2 separate regions of the Homo sapiens genome follow, and region 1 is linked to region 2. The links come from fine-mapping of genetic effects on gene expression. Tissue or cell type: blood mononuclear cells. Region 2 holds a variant in brackets; the other region holds the start of a gene. All regions are shown on one strand. Distances are between the middles of the regions.

Region 1 (8,111 bases), 240 kb before region 2:
TTGTTGCTGAGTAATATTCCATTGTATGGGTGTGCCATAGTTTCTTTATCCATTCATCTGTTTATGCACATTTGGGTTCTTTCTAGTTTGGGCCATTAAAAATAAAGCTGCTATGTACATTTGTGTACAGGTCTTATGTGGACATATTCTTTTATTTCTCTTGGGTAAATACCCAATAGTAAAATGGCTGGATTTTGTGGTAACCTTAAAAAAAAGTCTACTGTTTTTCAAAGTAGTTGTAGTATTTTATGATTTAATTTAATTTACAAATCTATATCTTAAATGACAAATAAAAATTGCATACATTTATGGTATACAATGTGATGTTTTGATATATGTATAGATTGTGGAATTATTACATCAAGCTTGTTAACATATCTATCACCTCACATGCTTATTTTTTTGTGGTAAGAACAGTTAAAATCTCTTTCCGCAATTTCAAGTTTAGATTATTATTAACTGTAGTCTCCATGTTGTGTAATCATTCTCCAAAATTTATTTCTCCTGTCTAACTGAAACTTTTTACTCTTTGACCAACATCTCCACATTGTCCCCACATTCACAAGCCCCTGGTAACCATCTTTCAATTCTCTGCTTCTATGAGTTCAACTCTTTTAGATTCCACATAAAAGTAAGATCATACAGTATTTGTCTTTCTGTGCATGGCTTATTACACTCAGCATAATATCCTCCAGATTTATCTATGTTGTCACAAATGATTAGATTTCATTTTTTATGGCTGAATGGCTGAATACTATTCCATTGTGTATATATACTACATTTTATTTATTCCCATTAATAGACACTTAGGTGGATTCCATGTCTTGAAATTGTGAATAATCTGCAATGAACATAGAAGTACAGATATCTCACTGACTTACTGATTTCATTTCCTTTGGATAAATACCCAGAAGTAGGATTGCTGGATCATATGGTTGTTTTATTTTTAATTTGTTGATTAACATCTATGCTGTTTCCTCCAATGACCATGGGTTATACTATTTTATAATTCTGCCATCAAGTGTATGAGAGTTCCAGTTCTCCTATATCTTTACCAATGCTTGGTATGGTCAATTTCTACTTATTTGTTTGTTTATTGATATTTAAAATTTTATCCATTTACCCAGGTATGAAGGGGCATCTCATTGTGGTTCCAATTTCCATTTCCATAATGACTAATGATGTTGAGACTCTTTTCATGTGTTTATTTGCCACTCATTATCTTTTTTGCTGAAGTGTCTGTTCAAATCTTTTGTCCTTTAAAACATTGGGTTATTTCTTTTGAATACAGTGATTCAATTTATTTTGAATCATTATGTATTCTGGATACTAGTTTTTTAAAAAATTATAGAAATCATTTGGAAATATATTCTTCCATCCTGTGGCTTATTTTCTTATTCTATTAGCAGTATCTTTTGAAGAACAGTACATTTAATTTTGATAAGGTCCAATTTGTCAGTTTGTTCTTTCGTAGATTATTTTTGTTATATCTGAAAAATCTGCCTATCATAAGGTCACAAAAGTTATTCTCCTATTTTAAAAAGAAGTTTTGTCATTTTATTTTCAGTTAAGTCAATGATTCATTTTAAGTTAATTTTTGCATGTGGCAAAATAAATAGATATATTAAGGGGCAGATTCAAGTTTCTTTTTTGCATGTGGATATCCAGTTGCTCCAGCATTGTTTTTGAAAAGACTATCCTTTCTTTCTCTATTAGATTTTCTTTGCATCCTTGTGGAAAACATTTGCTCATGTATGTGTGGGGGTGTCTTTCTTTCTTTCTTTCCTTTCTTTCTTTTCTTTTTTTTTTTTTTTTTTTGAGACAGAGTCTCTCCCTGTCACCCAGGCTGGAGTGCAGTGGCACAATCTTGGCTCACTGCAGCCTCCGCCTCCGGGGTTCAAGTGATTCTCCTCCCTCAGCTTCCTGAGTAGCTGAGATTACAGGCATGTGTCACCATGCCTGGCTAATTTTTCTTTTTTTGTATTTTTAGTAAAGATGGGGTTTCACCATTGGCCAGGCTGGTCTTGAACTCCTGACCTCAGATGATCCTCCCACCTCGGCCTCCCAAAGTGCTGGGATTACAGGCATGAGACACCTTGCCTGGCCAGGTCTGTTTCTTCATTGATCTACTGGTGTATGTTACAAGTACTACATTTATTTGATTACTTACAAGAAGTCTTGAATCAAATAGCGTTAACCCCCCAACTTGTTTGTTCTTTTTTAAAGTTGCTATTGTTTCTTGCCACTGAGCTAAAAAATAGTTGCTGTTGACTATTTTAGGTTCTTTGCATTTTCATATGTGTTTTGTCAATTTCTACAAAAGTCCTCCTGGGATTTTGATTGGAATTTGCTGGAATCTGTAGAATAATTTGGGAAGAAATGACATCTTTAAAATATTGAGTAATATTTTATATATTACTGGCTAATTAATATATCTATTTATTTTGTTTTTTCTTTATTTTTTCTCAACAATGTTTTAAGATTTCTGTTTATAGGTTTTCCACATCTTTTATGTACATTATCCCTATTTTATATATTTTTATGTTATCATTAGCGACATTTAAAACATTCAATTTCCAATAACTTGTTGCTAGTATATAGAAATTCAGTTGATTTTATATGCCAATCTTGTATCCCGAAATCTTGCTAAGCTTACTTATTAGTACAAGTAGCTTTGATTCTCGATTCCATCACATTTCTATACAAATGATCATATTGTCTGTGAATAAAGACAGTTTTATTTCTTCTTTTCTGATTTCTGTGCTTATTTATTTTTCTTTTCTTTTTTTATTGTACTAGCTGAAACTTCCAGGACAAAGTTGAATAGAAGTGTTGAGAGTAAAAATTCTTGTCTTGTTCTGGTCTTTTATCTTTCAGTATAATACATTTTCATAGGTGCTTTTTTTTGGTTGAGAAAATTCTCTTCAGTTTCTTTTTCACTGAGTCGTTTTATGAGGAATGGATGTTGGATTTTGCCAAATGGTTTGTTGTGCCTATTTTATGTGCCTATTATGTACATGTTGAATAATTTCTTTTTTCTTTTTTTTTTTTTTTTGAGACGGAGTCTCGTTCTGTCACCCAGGCTGGAGTGCAGTGGCATTATCTAGGCTCACTGCACACTCCACCTCCTGGGTTCATGCCATTCTCCTGCCTCAGCCTCCCGAGTAGCTGGGACTACAGGCGCCTGCCACCAGGCCTGGCTAATTTTTTGTATTTTTAGTAGAGATGGGGTTTCACCATGTTAGCCAGGATGGTCTCGAAATCCTGACCTTGTGATCCGCCTGCCTCAGCCTCCCAAAGTGCTGGGATTACAGGCGTGAGCCACCGCGCCCGGCCCTGAAGAATTTCTTTTAGCATTTCTTGTGTAGGTCTCCTGGAAAAAAAATCTGATTTGGGGAGAAGGGTATGAAAATGTCTTTATTTTTCATTTTTGTAGGATATAGGACTATGCTACAATTTTATGTAGAATCTATTTAGAATCCTATACAGAATTCCAGACTAACATGTTTCACTTTCAGCTCTTTAAAGATGTCATTCCATTGTTTTGGAGTAATTGTTTCTGAAGAGAAATTAGACATAATTTTTATCATTTTTTTCTTCCGTGTAATGTTTCTTTTTTCTCTGACTGCTTTTAAGATTTTTGTATCATCTTTGGCTATCAACAGAGTGAGTATGGTGTGCCTAGTTCTGTTTTTGTGTTTATCCTCTTTTGGGGTTACTATGATTCCTGATGCTGAGGTTTGATATTTTTAATCAATTTTGAGAAATTCTTGGCCATTATGTTTTCAAGGATTTCTTCTGACTCATTTTCTATCTCTCACAGATGCAATTACATATTTACTAGGCTACTTAATATTGTCCTAGAGATCATAGACTCAAGTTTTTCACTCATTCCCCCTTTTATTTATTTATTTATTTTTGGATAATTGACCTGTCCTCAGGTTTACTTCTGCTTTTTGCTGCTGCTAATAGGCTACTGTTGTGTTTTATGGCCTGTTAGACTCCTAATATGTATTCTCTTTTGATGACAGTGTATTTTAAAAACAAATTTTGACATTGCAGTTTGGTTTCTTTTCATACTTTTCATTACTCTGCTGAAATTCTCTATATATTCATGCATGCTCTCTACCTTTTCCACTGAATTATTTGACATATTTATCATAGTTATGCTGAAGTTACTCCCTGATAAATCTAACGTCTGTGCTTTCTAGAGTCTCAGCCTGTTGACTGTTTTCTCATTTGATTATTGCTCACATTTTTTCTCTTTGTGGGTCTCAAAATTTTTTACTCTATGTTGGATATTGTGAGAAAAATAGTAGAGATTGAGAAAATTAATATTTATTTACCCTAAAAAAGTGCATACTTTTTTTGTTAGACCTTTTCTTGGGAAAGTTGAGGAAATCTGTTGTATATTTGAGGTATGTGGGATTATTTCAGCTTTAGTTGGATTAGTTTACCACTGACTTCAAATGTTTTGAAAACAGAATAAGGTCTTTTCTATCACTAGGGCTTGTGATCTGAGCACTGGCAAGATTTCAGAGATCTCTGTGTGCTCCCAGACTGTTTTGGTTGCTAGGGAGTTCTTTTTCCTTTCCTGTTTCTGACTTTATTAATCTCAGGAGGTCTCTCTTCTTTTTGCTCTGCTGCTTCAAGCCTTTGGCATCCAGTGCCTTGTACTTAATGAAAGTTTGCAACACTCTGAGCAACTGTTCTCAGTTCTTCTGCCTTATTTCTGGCCTCCGTTGCAACTGTTTTGACCTAGTGAAGGCCTAGACTTTCTCAGACAGATTTCTTTTAACTCTTCTGCCCTGACTCCAGTCTTCACTGGGATGCTGCCTTGCACTTAGGGAAGGTTCACATGCCTCAAGGATCTCTCTCTCTCAGATTTCTTGACTTTCCCTCAGTCTTCAGTATAGTCCTCCTCTGTGCCTGGTGAAGACCTGTGGTAAAGTGCTGGCAGGTGAGTACAGCTTGATGGTGTGGATGGGTTCCTTGGGACTCCAGCATGTCAAGCTAGTTCACACACAGGTCTTAATAGTTGTCTAAGATTCATGTAGTTCCTCATTTTCTTTTCTGTGGTAGATTCTGTTTCCTGCTGCACCACCAGGGATGAAAAAATTCACTGGTCTCTTCTTTTATAGAACGGGATCATAACTATACAGATTTTAGTTAAGTTAGCTTTATTAGTATTCTCAGCTTTTTTAATGGGATAAAAAGCAATGATATTATGGATTATCTGACTTTTCCTTTAGTATTAGGTTTGCCCAATCATCTCCATGATTTCTAAATTCCAAACTTCTTGAATAAATAAAATTTAAAAGAAAACATTGTACTAAAGTCAAAAGAAGGGTTTTAAGGCATAGTTCTACTTTTTACTGTCCATGTATCCTTGGATAAACTACTTCTCTGAAATTGTATTGCTTGCTTTTTCAGCTTGTTGAGTCTTTCATAAATTTAAGGGTTGGAATATGTCTCTCAGACAGAAATTGATAGAGCTTTGCAAGTCTTCAGATGTATTCAAGTTTGGTAAACACTGGGTTAGGCCATGGATAAAAGATTGGTCTTTGTGTGTTCATAAGAAAACCTGGATAGGAAGCTCTTCTTCTTACAGAAAGCCTCGATTGAGAAGTAAAGCTGGGACTATTAGTCCGTGTTCTGCAGTGAAATAATGGTAGCCATGCATAGATTGATTTAAGATCTATGCATGTTAAGATACCTGTCTTAACACAGGTAATAGTCACATCAGGGAAAAGAGCAACAGGCAGAACTCTTGGCTTTGTGTAAGAGCCCAAGGAAAGGGCCTGAGAGAGTACACACTGTATCAAAGTGTAGTGTTAATGTGAGGTGTCGGGAAAAAGGTCTTGGGTGTGTGTGTGTCTGCATAATATATGTGTGGAAAACTCTCAGTGCTGGTCCTTTGAGATATGTCTGTGAAAACTCTTTCAATTAACAAAAATAACCAACATTAATTGAATACTTTTTATGTGCCAGTCACTGTTCCAAGTTCTCTACAAAAGGTAATTCTTTAGTCCTTATAGTAATACTGTAGTGGTGCTGATACTATTTTTATCTTCATTTTTCAGAGAGGAAGCTAAATCACGTAAAAATTAAGAAACAGCTCAGCGTTTCACAGCTAGTAAGTAACAGAGATGGGCTTGAGACCCAGATTGGCAGGATCCAGGTCTTGTGCTCATGACGACTCTGCTATGGTGCCTCCCTTGAAAGCATCTTAGTGCTTTCATTGTTGTTTTTGTTATTGTTATTCTTACTATTATTTTGTACCCCCTTGGTGGATAGTGGCTGTGAATTTGTAGTTGTTGGTGTGTTTCTTCTGGAGCGTAAGCTCCTTCCTCCTCTATTGTTAGCCAGAGTTTTTGTTACCTTTGAAATAATTGCTAAATCAACAAAACATCTGTTACATTGCTGCTGCTCGAATGGCTATCTTTTAGAATTAGCACTCTTCTTTCTGAATCTGATGCCACAGCCTTTTGAACTTAAGGTATTTGGATGTGTCAGTAAAGGGGCTGTGGTAGCTGTGGTGACAGCAACTCCAATGGTGGTGACCGTAGAGAATGTGGCAGAGCTGTGAATGAGATGAAGAGATTTAGTGATGGCAGAGGAAACTTTGGGATTTCACAACTTTCTTCCTCCAAAAACTATTTGAAAGCAGATATGAGGAGTGGGAAATACAGAAACAATTCCAGCCTTTGTGCACCTTACAGCATAATGAGTGATGCTCACAGCTGATAAATAATAATAGCAAATACCTGTATAGAACTTACTATGTACTGGACACTTTCCCAAATATTTTACATGCGTTATCTCACATGTTCCACTCAATAATCCCAGAAGATGGAACTCTGATCTCTAGTTTGCAGTTGAGGAAACTGAGGCAAAGCAAGGTTAAGGAGCTTGCTCAAGATCCCACAACCAGTAGGTGACAGAACTGATATTTGAACCTAGGAAGATTGGCTTGAGAATCTGACACTTAAACACTATCCTATTCTGCTAACAAATAATGAATCAGTTGGCAACTATGGTAAGAGCTACAGAGACAATGAGAAGATGAGGGGGATTGAGCTGAGTCTGGAGGGTTTGGGAAGACTTGCCTGATGAAGTGATGAGGAGTGATGAAAAAGTCAGCCAGGTGAAGGGGCTTGTGTATATGTACATGTGTGTGCCTGTGTTCCTCTGCCCATGCATGTGGCATGGTCAGGGAGACACATTTTTAGGACTTGTGTAACACATCTCTGTAAATAGCTTCAAAATAAAATATCAATTTGTGATTCTTGTAATGGAAATTTACTTCATACACAACTTTCAGGCACTGTTTTGTAGCATAATTCAAAGTGATGCTGTCTTTGTATACGGCTTTAAGACAGTTTTTGAGCACATATCTCTGCATGTCTGTGTCCTGCTTTGTGGGCAGTAAGAAGCTTGGGAATCCCGGAAAGCTGAATTCACATTCCAGCTTTTTAGCCGTGGTCATTGCTCAGTTATTTGGGGTTGTGTTCTCTGTTTGTTGATTAATAGAAAATGCATTAAAAGTGCATAAAATAGAAAAATTACCCCCAATCAGTGCAAACGTCCACATATCTGAAGGCTTCTGTTGCAGGTGCCTGGTAATCATCAGAACCCCTCTAGTGAGACCACCAGGTTATTTCTGGGCTCCATCCCAGAGTCAATGGTCCCTCAAAAAGGAAGCTTTTGTTTACTGTAAGCAAAACCAAATGGGATTAGGAGGGCCATGGATTCAAGAACTCTAAAGACAGGGTTGAGAAATTAAGTGAGAAGGAGAAGACAGAGGAAGATCTAAGCATTGAGATTACTCCTCTGCCCAACTTAGTTGTGTTCTAACATTTTTAAAAACGAGATTAACTGGGAAGCAAATAGAAATTAGACTATTTATTAGCAAGCCTTTAGCAGTTTCTCATCAAGTGACACATTTGGTGTTTAGTGTTCCTAATGAGTTGCACTAGGGTTATTTTTACACTTTTGGGCATCTGTGGAGTGGTAAATGTGTTCCTAAATATTAGATATAATTACAATAAAATATGTTTATATAAATTTACTTGCTACCAGATTCAGACTAGTTTTGTTTTAATCAGGGT
Region 2 (8,111 bases):
TCAAGTTATAAATGACCCTCTTTTCTTTTTTTAGTGTACTCTCGTAGCAAAACTGCTAGCAAGTGTACCCTTTCTGCAGAAAGTAAAAATAGCCTTGCTGAAAAAATTAAATTTACGTTCAAGTGCTATTTCTTTACAGCATCAAAGAACAAGAATTTCAAACAGCTATATTCCTGGGTATTTTGGTTTTTTTGTAGCTATTATAAATGGAATTAAGTTCTTAATTTGATCTCAGCTTGGTCATTATTGGTGTATAGTAGTGCTACTGATTTGTATACATTGATTTTGTAACCTGAGTCTTTACCGAATTCATTTATCAAGTCTGGGAGTTTTTTGGAGGAGTCTTTAGGATTTTTGAGATATGAGATTGTATCATCACCAAATAGACATAGTTTGACTCTCTTTTCTAATTTGGATGCCATTTATTCCTTGCTCTTGCCTGATTGCTCTGGCTAGGACTTTCAGTACTATGTTGAATAGAAGTGGTGAAAGTGGGCAGCGGATATTTGCATTGTTTTTTAATCCATTCCAGAAGGTCTAATCTTTACTATAACTGTGTTTGGTGATAGGGCCTTTAAGGAGGTAATTAAGGTTGAATGAGGTTAAAAAAAAAAAAAAAAAAAAAGGAGAGTTCTAATCCCTTAGGATTGTTGTGCTTTGGAAGAAGAGGAAGAAACACAGAGCTTTCTTTCAATTGCATGCACACAAGAGGCCCCATGCAAGCACACAGCAAGAAGTCAACATCTTCAGGCCAGGAAGAGAGGCTTCACAAGAAACCAAGCCTGCTGGCATGGTAATCTTGGACTTCTAGTCTTCAGAGTTATGAGAAAATAAATTTCTGTTGTTTAAGTGAAATTTTGTTGTGGCAGCCTGAGCAGACTAATACACCTAACATGCTCTTTAATATGTTAGCATACTAAACTGATCAAGAAAGTTACACTTCAAAGGGTTATCATTAGTGACCACTGGATGTTGGGGATTATGAGTGCTTTTATCATTCATTTTTCCTACTCTCTTCTAATTTTTCTTCAATGACATATTGTTTTATAAAGAAAAAGAACATTGTTCTTCATTTAAAAAAACAAAAAAGTAGGACTGTCTTCTATGGGGTGGATGATATCTTCAACATCTTCTCTATATTATGTATTTTATATGCCAGTTGTAATATGATCCTCAGTGTAGGTGGGTATCAAACATTGAAGGATAATTCCTTTTAAAGCAATTGTACAAAGATCAAATTATGATATGTAAGCATGGCATATTAATAAAGTTGAAACAGAATATTTACAGAAATAAAATAACTACCTGACTTCCAGACAGTCTTTAAGTACATTTTCGCAAAATTTGACTTTCAATAGGAATTGGACAGGAGGAACAGAATGTTGCGAGAATCAAGGGCTCTAACTTTGGAATAAGGTGGCCTGGTTTTTTCCTCACTTGGCCTCTCCCTAGCTAAATCATTTCCAGAAAGGCATTTAAACTCTATAAGCCTCAGTGTTCTAATCTGAAAAATAATACAATAATATTAACACTCTTAACAAGTGTTTTATTAATAATTAAATGTGATAATACTTAATGAGAACCTACCATAAGACTTAGCTGCTAGGGTGCAACATAGTTATAAAGTACCACGCTTATTTGAAAGTTCAAGGTTATACTTTCTATAAAGGACTTCCAATACAGATATTTTGCATTTCTGACTGAAATAGATATACATGCTTTTCATTTCTATTGGACAAAGGGTGGGCTTTTAGCCCACATATGAAAGAAAAGCCTCTAAGCTAAATTTATTCTTGCATAGATGATTACTGTGCATCTATAAAAGGAGAGATTAAGTCCAGGAAGTAGTTCTACATTTTTTTCCAAACTCAGTTTTGTTCCTAACCTAATATTTATTGCTTACAATTTAATATTTTATATTTAAAGTAATAGTCACATTTGTATAGCATTATACATATTTCATGTATGAATATTTTGGCTAAATAGGATAATACCTCTTCATAGAAATTTAGATTATAAGCTTTAAAAAAATGAAGGAATTCCAGCTAAAACTAATAATTTGGATTTGGTTCAAGAAAATAAAAATAAATAAATTAAAATAAATTCCCCCAAATCTGGAGATTAGTAGATTGAAAGTGATCTCAAAAAATTATATAACTGCCAAAAAAAAAAAAAAAAAAAAAACCCCAAAAAACCAAAACTGCCCTTTGCTTCTGGAACAAAATTTTCAGGCTTGCATAATTTTTTTCTAATAATAATGTATTTTATATAGTTGCAGGGATTATGTACTAAACTTACTGTCTTAACTGCCTGAAATTTGTAAATGGACAGGCTGGTGAGAAGTTCGTGGGCTGAACAATTTTTGAAATGTCGGCTGAATTGCATCTTTTCCTGAAATACATTTCACAAGTCTTAACAGCACCAAGTGGCCTAAATGAGTTAGGATCACTCCTCAAGCCCTTAAATTAATATCAGGAAGCAATTTAGACACTGAGGAGAATTAAGCTCAATGTGTTAGTGAGATGAATAATTGAAGCATTTGAAGTGGGTGATAGATCTTACTAAGTGATTACTTCCTTATAAATTCCTAAACAAGAAGTCTTCATTGAGAAATGGTTTGGGATTGCTGCCATTTGTCACTTGGCCTATGAATGCTTAATCACCTGCGTTTTCAGGCCATTAAAGGCTATTCAGTGTATTGTGGTGGCCCAAAAAAGTTAATACATCCACTGAACACCCAACCCAACTCCCCAGAGGGACCATTGCAAATGCTGGGAAAGTATTCAGCTTACTGTTGTCACTCTGAGTAAGTAAGCCACTATTGTCCTGATAAATTTTAATAAAAGTTAATATATAAGTAGGAAAAAAAGGATTTTTTTTTACTATTTTAATGCTTATTTAAGTTGCACACTTGTAGTTATTTTAAAATTTGAGTTAAAAATTACATCAGATTCATTGTAACTGAACCCTCAATAACCCAGTTTAGATTACATTGGTCAGGGCTGGGCGTCGTGGCTCGCATGTATAATCCCAATACTTTCAGAGATGGAGGTGGGCAAATTGCTTGAGGCCAGGAGTTGGAGACAAGCCTGGCAAACACGGCAAAACCTCATCTCTACTGCAAATACAAAAATTAGCCAGGCGTGGTGGCGCACACCTGTAATTCCAGCTATTTGGTAGGCTGAGGTAAGAGAATCGCTTGAACCTGGAAGGGGGACATTGCAGTGAGCTGAGATCACGCTGCTGCACTCCAGACTGGGTGACAGAACAAGACTTGTTCTGAAAAAAAATACACTGGTTAAATTTGTTATGCATGTGTCTAATTGAAGAGACAACCTGAACAGGCTAAGTGTGAGCAACAAGGCTGTTGATTCACTCGGGTGCGAGTGGGCTGAGTCTGAAAAGGGAGTCAGTGGAGGGTGGCGGGATTGGAGCTAGTTTTACAGGTTAGGGCTAAGCAGTGGAAAGTTACAGTTAGGGGACGTTTATTGCGGGCGGGGAAGAATGTCACAAGGTACATTATCACAAGGTGGGAGGGGTCACAGGGCACAGTGTCACGAGGTTGATCAGTTAGGGTAGAGCATGTTACAAGGGTAGAATGTTGCAAGGCTGGCTAATCAGCTAAGACAGGAACTAGCTGTTTTTTCTTCCTTTGTGGTTTTCCTGTTGTCCCAGACTTTCTGGCTCCAGGAGACCTTCTGGATGTGTACGTGTGGATCACAGGGATCATAATGGCTTCACCACGGCATAGCCTGTTCAGAGGACCTTACAAAATTGTGCATCATGAAATTTATCAACTACTTATAGTAAAGGAATGACAAAAATAAATTTAAAAGGAGGGGTTAGCTTCCACCACCTAGACTACTATCATATGCTTTTATATTCCTATATGCACAGCATATGCTTCTATATATGTTAGACATCTTAATATACCCTGGGTTAGCGGCAGCGTAAGATGGTGTTTAAGAAGAAAGGCTCTGCAAGACTCCGTCTCAAAAAAAGAAAAATAAAAAAAAGAAGAAGAAAGGCTCTGGAG[G/C]CAGATATACTGCAGCCAGATCCCGGCCCAATAGGTCAGTTATTTAGTTTCTCTAAACCCCGCTTTCTTTATCTGTAAAATGGCGAGAGTGATGGTAATAACTGCATAGGGGCAGGTGAGGATTAAACGACAAAGTGGATGCCTGGGTCTTTTGTGCAGTGACTTGCAGATAGTAGTCATTATACACATTTGTCTATTATGGAATCCTGTCATCTTTTTGTTTGCTCAAACTATACAGTGCTTTTTTTTGCCCAGTAATCTACTCAACCATCATAATTCAGCATTAAGTATTTATTATGTTTCTTTAAACCTTTTGATTACATTAGTTGTGAGTCCAGAACCAGCTTAAGTGACTGGCTGAGCTTGTGTAAAACATGAGACTGAGGGAAAAGAGGTAGTTTTATATGCATGCAATATAAAACGCTAGATATTTTCTTAAGCTACATGAGCATGTTCTAATAAAGGCAGGCAGCAGATGAGAAGAATTTATAATAGCTACATTCCATATATTCTTGTTTCTGCTTCATAATTTGTCTTCGGTGAGTATGTAATTTTTTTTCACAGTAGTTATTCCCAGCTGCATATGTGTGCTGCAGAAAGAAAGAGCATATGGAATATATACCGTGTATATATACATATAGAGATATTCTGGCACTGGGCATGTGGATTCACATGCATATACATGCACACACTCGTACTATCAGTCTATGTATGTCTATATGTAGAGAGAGACAAATATATGTATAGATATACATTCCTTCTGCTCTTTTCATTGTGTTATGCATGTCAGAGGCAGTGAGAGTTCTGTTCTCCTCCCTATTCCCCACCCCCCACAAGCTGGAGGGCCAGAAGGTGGGGCGGTACCTCAGGATAATGGCAGCAGAAGGCAAAGGGAGCAGACAGCTGGCAAGCTCTGTCCCAATATGCTTCCCTGAAAGAGGCGAGGAAATTTCAGAAGATGCAATGCCTGAATGGCTCACTTTGCAGGAAAACAGAAGAACCAAGGTAAATTCCTTAGAATGTCATCCATTTTAATGGGTCTAGAATTGACCATCTTCTTATCACCATTTGGTAAACTTCCCCAAAGTTGTGAGTTTATAAACATCTCATCTTGGAAGATAGTCTAGAAAGAAATGTCAACTTTTCTGACTCATGAGAGCTCTTCTCATAAGCTTAAAAAGACTCTGCCAATGCCAGGTGTCTCCTGGAATTTTCTAGAACAAAAATATACAGTGAAACCTCTGCTATGTTAAACACTGGGAGCATAAGAAATTCTGTATAGCAGATGCCCTGTCATAAGCAATACAACTTAACTGTTTTGAATGAAACATTTTCAAAAGACATTTTACATGCCTCCTTGCCATTTTAAACAGGTTATTCTAATTTCACACTTTCCTGATGACTTAGGGTCAACATTATGAACAATAATTTTTATTAGTCAAACATAGTACTCTTTGAAATGCTCCATTAAAATATATAGGACTATTTCCCCTGTTATTAAAGTTTTTCTTTTCATTTTACTCTGGGCCATTATTTCTCCCAAGGTCTGTTTTGATACTTTTAAATCAGTTGTCGGCTTGAATTACGTAGCCTAGTTTGTTGGGATGTTATAAAAGTAGGAAATAATTGCTAAGTGAGCACTCAAGGCTTCCTTTCTTGCAAAGGCCTTGTCATGTACATGGCCTTTGCAAAACCTTGCAAAGGTTTTGCTTGTTTGTTTGCTTCCTGGGTTGTCAGAGATGAGGTTAATGAAAGGCTGAATCTTCCTTGAACACAGTAGTCTGTTCCTATCCACGGTTTCACTTTACATGGTTTCAGTTACCCATGCTCAACTGTAGTCCAAAAATACTAAAATATTTTGAGAGGAAAGAGAGAATTCATAGTCACGTAACTTATAATCCAATATATTGTTATCATTGTTCTATTTTATTATTAGTTATTGTTGTTAATCTCTTACTGTGCCTAGTTTATAAGTTCAACTTTATTATAGGTATATATATATATATAAAGACAGTATATAAAGGGTTCAGTACTCTTCACAGTTTCAGGCATGCACTAGTGGTCTTGGAACATATCCCCCAAGGATAAAGAAGGACTACTGTATTATAATTGTATAGTGTCATTTTGTCCATAAAGCTTTATCTTATCTCCACAATTAGATTGTAAACTCCTTGGAACAGTGATCATATTATATACCATTTTCTTTATTCTTTATAACACCAAATACAGTACTCTACTTGTAAACTAGACACTTACTTACTTTTACATTGATTCCAAGGTATAAAAAATTTTATACTGGTTCATTATTATCACAATGAAAGAGCAATGTTTTGGGTGGGGCTATCAAGCTAACAAATTAACTTCAGCAACTGCCAAAAGCACAGGATGACAACTGTATTCATGGGACAGATAGTAGTATTAATGAACAAAGAGCTTCAGGGGTTCAGTTATTTTGCTACATGCTGAAATATTAATATGTACAGGCAGGCAAGTACATGTGGATCAGAAATGTAAGCAGTAAAAGTGATCAGTTGATGTGATATGTAGTTGATTTTTTTTTTCTTTAGGGATTCTGATAATCAGAGCCATGGTTTGAGGATATGTGGTCTGTCATTTCAAAACTTTATAAATTCAGATTTGGAAAAACTCCTTTTCCTAAAATTAATATTTGAAATTTTATCAGCATAAACTATCCCATTTATGCATAATATGGTAAGAATAGGAAGCTTTTGTTTTACATTTTATATGACTCATATAAAATGAACTTCTTATGATTAAAATATAGTTAAACTCTTATTTATTTGTGTGTTTCAATTTAGTTGATTATCTTATAGTTTATATGCCAGAATATCATATGGGAGAAGACATCATTTATCTGCTTATGTTTCTAAACAAAATCCAGCTATTTATTTTCTTTTTCAAGCTGGTTCTAAACTAGATGAGGGTCAAGTACATGGAATCCCTTATGTCCTTTACTTCTCCACTTGTTTTGGTTATGCTTAGAACTAGCTCTATTCATTATAATTGCTCACCTTCACAGAAATACTGATGACATCATTTTAGAAACACAAGTCATTGATGTTTCCACTTATTTATGGAGTGCCCAATTTGTAGCACATGCAGATAGGCCCTTAATAAATACTGATATCCTGGGGCTGGCTAGTACTGTTTCTTACTATCTGACTCTTATATTTTCAGGAATTTTGCATTCTGGTTGGTAAATCATTGGTAGCTTTAAATTAACCATAGTGGGATTATTTACACCACCACAACACAGGAATTGACAAATGTTCCAAATGCCCCTCTATGAGCCAGTTGCTGATCATGAGTATTTTTTATGGTGATGACTTGCAAAAGAACTGCTTGATTTCCAATACACATTGTGGTACAAGAACATATAAAATAGAAATACTCCTCTACTACTGGAAGGAAGTAGTAAGGACTCTTGATTTTGATAACAGAAATGTTAATGCAATGGAGACCAATATGACAGAATTTAGTTGGATCTTTCACAAGTACTTGATATATATGTATGCTATTGGTTGAATGAACCACCCCCTGGCCCTGCAAAAGGATGTAGTAGAAACTTATTCCCCAATGCAACAGTGTTGGGAGGTGGGGCCTAATAAGAGGTGATTAGGCCATATGTGGTCCCCCCTCATGACTAGATTAATGCCATTAGTGTGGGAGTGGGTTTATTATAAAAGGCCAAGTTCAGGATCGGGCTCCGTGGCTCACGCCTGTAATACCAGCACTTTGGGAGGCCGAGGTGGGCAGATCACAAGGTCAGGAGATCGAGACCATCCTGGCTAACACAGTGAAACCCTGTCTATACTAAAAATACAAAAAATTAGCTGGGCATGGTGGCGGGCACCTGTAGTCTCAGCTACTTGGGAGGCTGAGGCAGGAGAATGGCATGAACCAGGAGGCAGAGCTTGCAGTGAGCCGAGATGGCGCCACTGCACTGCAGTCTGGGCAACAGAGCAAGACTCCATCTAAAAAAAAATAAAAATAAAAATAAAAGTCCAACTTCAGTCCTGTCTTATTTCTCACCCTCTCTTGCATTTCTGCCTTC

What was found. PIP is the estimated chance that this variant, and not a neighbour inherited with it, causes the effect.
Region 1: LINC01088 starts here. The variant in region 2 is fine-mapped to the expression of LINC01088 in blood mononuclear cells (TOPMed, PIP above 0.99). The same link has a PIP of 0.9 or more in whole blood.

The regions. Positions count from the first base shown.
Region 1 is chr4:78,966,917-78,975,027 of GRCh38, forward strand. It overlaps LINC01088 (long intergenic non-protein coding RNA 1088), which reads left to right and starts at 4,832. Exons shown (of 6, transcript NR_038342.1): 1 at 4,832-4,960; 2 at 6,084-6,136.
Region 2 is chr4:79,206,764-79,214,874 of GRCh38, forward strand. All of the region lies in intron 4 of LINC01088 (long intergenic non-protein coding RNA 1088), which reads left to right. It also overlaps a transcript of NAA11 not described here. Among named protein-coding and RNA genes, the nearest start is that of NAA11, 120 kb to the right of the region's middle. The variant G/C (reference allele first, on the strand shown) is at 4,037.